Regions from separate parts of the Homo sapiens genome. Here region 2 is linked to region 1. Evidence: fine-mapped expression QTL. Tissue or cell type: whole blood. Region 1 holds a variant in brackets; the other region holds the start of a gene. All regions are shown on one strand. Distances are between the middles of the regions.

What was found. PIP is the estimated chance that this variant, and not a neighbour inherited with it, causes the effect.
Region 2: it holds the start of WIPF2, and the variant in region 1 is fine-mapped to the expression of WIPF2 in whole blood (INTERVAL, PIP 0.99).

The regions. Positions count from the first base shown.
Region 1 is chr17:40,279,305-40,282,060 of GRCh38, forward strand. It overlaps WIPF2 (WAS/WASL interacting protein family member 2), which reads left to right. Exons shown (of 8, transcript NM_133264.5): 8 at 1-2,756. Among named protein-coding and RNA genes, the nearest start is that of CDC6, 7.2 kb to the right of the region's middle. RefSeq lists enhancers at 1,742-2,678, 2,679-2,756. The variant G/A (reference allele first, on the strand shown) is at 1,140.
Region 2 is chr17:40,218,053-40,220,678 of GRCh38, forward strand. WIPF2 (WAS/WASL interacting protein family member 2) reads left to right here and starts at 1,252. Exons shown (of 8, transcript NM_133264.5): 1 at 1,252-1,440. RefSeq lists enhancers at 593-642, 1,083-1,192, 1,093-1,871.

The DNA.
Region 1 (2,756 bases):
TTTTAAGTCCTGCCTGTACTGAAGTTCACAGCCCACCTGACTGAGCAGACTCTTCCTGTTCCTTTCTCTACCACCCTTGCCTTCCCAGGACTGCACGGTTTAACACAGCAGAGTACAGAAGGGTGAAGAAGTGAGCAGAGGCTTATGAAGATATTCAGATACTCTTCTATGCCAGGAAGCACAAAGACTTTGTTGAGATTTGCCTCAGTTCAGTAGATCTTCCTTGGCAGCCAGCCATAGGTTGTTTCTTTGTCTTCCGGGTCCTAAAGAGCACAGAGAAAATGGAGGTCCCCAGTCTAGGTAGGAAGCTGATTGGATGAGGACTTCTTTTTTTCCGACAGCAGGATGGGGCTCTTGGGCTCCACACACCAGATGCTTTGGTTTTCTACAACTGTTGCTATGTGTAGAGGGTGCTCAGAGCGTGGCATGAGAGCAAGGAGACCATGGCTACTCTTTGAAATGGATGGGGAAAATTAGCTTAAAAATTTAATCACGAGATTGCGCCACTGCACTCCAGCCTGGGCGACAGAGCCAGACTCCGTCTCAAAAAAAAAAAAAAAAAAAAAATTTAATCACACACATCACAGGCTTAAACTGTCTTAGAGACCTTTCCAGTTGATTGGATCACAGGCTAGGGATCTGTGCATGGTGCCAGGTGAAACCCAAGTCTCCCCAGTGCTAGGTGAGGGAGGGCTCAACGGGGGTAATGTGTATGGGGTCTGCTGTCCTTTGCCATCCCCTGGACCATATTAACTCTGGGACAGACCATGATTAGGTCTGTCACCAAACTTTTCCTAATCATTTTTTATGTATCATTCTTCTTTCTAATCTGTTAGCAGTTATCTCCCAGAAGTATCCCTAGCATCCTGAAGCAAACAGAACTGCCGGGCGCTGTGGCTTATGCCTGTAATCTCAGCAATTTGGGAGGCCGAGGCGGGCGGATCACCTGAGGTCAGAAGTTCGAGACCAGCCTGTCCAACATGGTGAAACCCCGTCTCCACTAAAAACACAAAAATTATCTGGGCGTGGTGGCATGTGCCTGTAGTCCCAGCTACTGGGGAGGCTGAGGCAGGAGAATCGCTTGAATCCAGGAGGTGGAGGTTGCAGTGAGTGGAGATGGCGCCACTGCGCTCCAGCCC[G/A]GGTGACAGAGTGAAACTCCATCTCAGAAAACAAACAAACCAAACAACTGAGAGAGGGCATGCTAGTGGAGGGAAAAGGAGAGAGTACAAGAGTTGATACTGCATCAGAGTTCCAGGGCAGATACTGACAAGTGACTGAACTTTGACTGTGAAGTCTTCCCATTTATTTTTGAAATGGGAGTCGATGCCTTTTGTACGTTATCAAAGTGTTTTTTTTTTTTTCCTCCTTTACTCAGACATAGAGCATCAAAATATCACGAGTAAAGCCAAACCCCAGCTTTTCACTGGGGCTGATATCTTCCTCCCCATGGCCCACTGCCCCCTCATATTCCCCAGCACTTGGACTGTGTCACATGGGTATTGATTGTATACTTGTTGTCTTGGCCTCATGCAAAAAGGCCTGGGTCTAGATCTAGTCAGATGAGTTTTTTTTAGAGCATGTTGATGATACAACACCTGTTTAAATGTCTGCCTTATATGTTATTTGGTCCCACTGTTAATAATAGATTTATTACTATGTATATTTACTATTGAAGATGGGAATGTGATCTGCATAGTTATCAGTCTATTTTGTATGTTGTAAAAAGCTTCTAATTTAGGTTTAAGGTGGGCTGGCTACAAGAGCACTAAAACTCCTCACCTTTTAAACTGCTCTTTTTATCTGCTTGTGGGAATGTCGTCTCTTTCGTGGAAGATTGGGTGGTCTCATGTTGAGGCTGTTGCCCAGTCCCATTAACTCCCTTGTCCCCCCACAGAAGGAAGAGACATTGCCCAGCTAAGCATCAGGAAGCTGTGTTAAAAGCCCTTCTATGGGTTTGGTTTTGTGATGTTTTTCCCTAATGGGAAAAACGTTATAGTTGTTTCTTACTGCCCTGTCTGGGAAGCAGGGCAAACCTCCAGGTTTTTAAATGAGCTAGATGCCCCTCTTCCTCTTCTCTGGTCACTGAACCTGGACCAAAGCACTTTGATATTCCAGGTGTGATTTTCTCTGTCATGGGGATTTGCTCCACTGCAGAGCCCCATCATTTTCACAGCGTAGGCCAACAGAGTGAGAACCTAGGGCTACCCTAGCTGATGGATGTGAGGCTGCTGTCTACAGGAGCTCATCCCAGCCCTGTTAACTGGCAGTGGCAAGGATACTCGTCATCGGCCATTGCACTGGGGAACTCCCTCACCCCATGGCTTCCCAACTTGAAACCCAGATTTACCTCCAGGGAGAGGTGAGAAAAAAATTGTAAATAGACTTGCTAAAGAGCAACTCAGGGTTGGGGTGTGTTTTAATTCTCCTGATCACTTGAAATAATCTGTAGGCTGAGTGCTTATGGGGGTGGGGGAGAAGGGTGACTCCAGGGTCCTTCCATTTTGTGAAGCTCTGGGGGTGGAGTGTGGGCATCTGAGGCCCTATGATGGCACTACATTGAGCTGTCTGCCCTTCCGGAAACCCAACCTGCAATCAACTGCAAATCAAATTCTTCACATTCCAGCTACAGTCTTTCTTTCCCCATTGAATCTCAGTCCCTGGCCATGTGGTCAAGGTGGCTTTCTGTTAAGCTACCCTAATTTCGGGAATGGGAGGGGAGAGAGGAGGGCCATTACAACTCTGCCTTCAAGACTCAT
Region 2 (2,626 bases), 61 kb before region 1:
TCCTTCAAGGCCCAGCTCCAAACCATTTAGGAAACCTCCTTCCATTCTTTAGCAGGAATTAATTGCTCCCTTGTCTGACGTCCCACAGCACTAATCACACGCTGACTTGTATCTCAGCTAGCTGTTTATGCCAGTCTGCCCACCAACGTAGTGAGTTCCCTGAGGGCAGAGGCTCTGTCTTAGTCACCTCTGTAGCCATCTCCTGGTGTTTAGCAGGTACTCAATGTGACATTTACTTGACTAGTGGGTGGTGCCTAGTACTACTCATGGCAGAATAGAAGGAAAACAAAAATAATAACAACTTATGCTCTATCACGTTTTCCCATTCATTAACTGATTTCAGCTTTGCAACAACTCTATGAGACAGACGGGACAGGCACTATTAGACCCATTTTACAGATAGGGTAGCTAAGGCCCAATGGCACACAGCTTGTAAGTAATGGGGACTAAGTCCCAATCTTGCCCCCTTACTTCGGATTCTGTGCTGGGAATGGAATTAAACCAAGAGTATTTTGAAGCTATAATGGAAAGCGCTTTTCTGGGTGGACTAGGGAGAGATACTTAGTCAGCTGTCAGGGTTTAACAGCAGCTCCATCAAAGAGGGCACAGGATTTCTCTCTCTGGCCCAAGCAGCTGGAGGGGTCCACAGCACCATCCTATAGCCCTGGAAGCTGGAGGAAACCCCAGCCCGAGAAAGAAGAGACGGTGTTCGAGTCAGGTGGGTAAGATGACGTAAATGATGACTTGTGAGCAGTGGCCTGCCTCTGTTGCCATGACAACCGGAGCTTGACTACTTGGCCTTTGCAAGGTTGGCCGAGGCGGGTTCTTCGTTAACTCGAGATTAAGGAAGGATATTTAGGGGGGAGGGTGTGTGTGTGTGCGGCGGATTAAAGACGAAAGGAGTATATTCAACAATGACTGTTTAGCTCAGTGGTTCTCCACCTTGGCAACACGTTAGAATCACCTGCAACAATTTCCTGATGCCTAGGCTGCACCCCAGAATTAAATTATAATTTCCAGGGGTGGGAACCAGGCATCATAGTATTTAAATCTTGCCAGGTGATTCCAATTGCAGCTAAAGTTGCAAACCCAGCTTTTAGCTGGTAAGCGGAATTCCTGTGACCTTCCTAAGATGGCGTCCACTCAACCGCTTCCGCCTTTACGTGGGCCGGCAGGGGGCGGGCTTCCCAGGGGCGCATGCGTCTCGCATCTCTCCGCTCCCTGCTCTCTCCTCCTTTTTCCCCCGCCTCCATTTTGTTCGCGGACGCTGGGGACGGTGGGAGCAGATCCATTTCCGGGTTGGCAAAAGGGGCGGTGGCGGCGGCGGCGGCGGCGGCGGCGGCGGCGACGGCGAGAAAGAGCTTGCCGGGGGGCGAGCAGGACAGGACGAAGCCGGAGTGTAGGCGGCAGAGGATTCGCTCCCAGAGCAGCTGCGGCCAGGTCGGAAAGAGGCCGGGGCGGCTGGGTCAGTCGCTGAAATGACCTGCGGACCTGAGTGGGAGGGAAAGTCGCGGGGAGGGGGGCTCGGGGCGGGGCTTGAGAAGAGAGGGGGGCATTAGAGGAGGGGCCGGAGGGGGAGAGGGGTCTTGCGGGTGGGGCCTGAGGGGCGGGGGGCCGGGGGACTGTATCGGAAGAACCTGGAGGAGAGAGGGCGTGGGGAATCTGGGGAGGAGTGGTCGAATATTGGTATGGGGCGAGCGGGGACTGGAAAAATGGGGAGGAACGTTTTTGAGAGACAGGCAATAAGGGCTCCTGAAGGGTTGGGTGAGTTAAGGCGGCAACTCTGTGAGGAACGAGGTAATCGTGCGCAAAAAGGGAGACGGGAACGGAGGACCTGTTGGGAACGGCTAATTAGCAGGATGCTGTGGGTGAGGAGTCCAGTGTGACATTTTGGGGATTGAGTTAGGTGAAAGCTAGTGTTTGGGAAGATGGCTCGGGAAACTGCTTACACTAGAGGGAATCTTGAGAGCGTTCTTTGAAAAGGAATCAGAATTTAGTTAAAGGTTGGATTGAGAATGTTAAGATGCGCATTGGAACGTCTGGAGTTGAGGGTTCATGTTGAAGTGGTGTGAAGTGAGGGAAGATGGAATTTTTTTTTTTTTGTTTTAAAGGTGGGGTCTGGCTATGTTGCTCAGACTAGTCTTGAACTCCTGGGCTCAAGCGATCTTCCCACCTTGGACTCCCAGAGTGCTGGGATTACAGGTGTGAGCCACTGCACCCGGCCAAGATGGAAATGTTAAAGTGTTCAGCATGGCAGTGTGTATGGTCGAGTTTTTTATCAGGAAGGAAAGTTCTTAAAAATAGCATTGAGGCAAGGAACTGATATGTGATGGAATTCTTTTTTCTTTTTTTTTCTTTTAAGAGACGTGGTCTCACTCTGTCGCCCGGGCTGGAGTGCAGTGGCATGATCATGGCTCCTTAAAGCCTCGACCTCCCGGGCTGAAGTGGTCCTTCCACCTAAGCCCCGCCAATAGCTGGGACCACAGGTGTGACCACTACTCCCGCCTAACGTGTGTGTGTGTATATATATATATATATATATATATATATATATATATATATATATGTATATATATATATTTTTTTGTTGTTGTTGTTGGAGACAGAGTCTTGCCCTGTTGTCCAG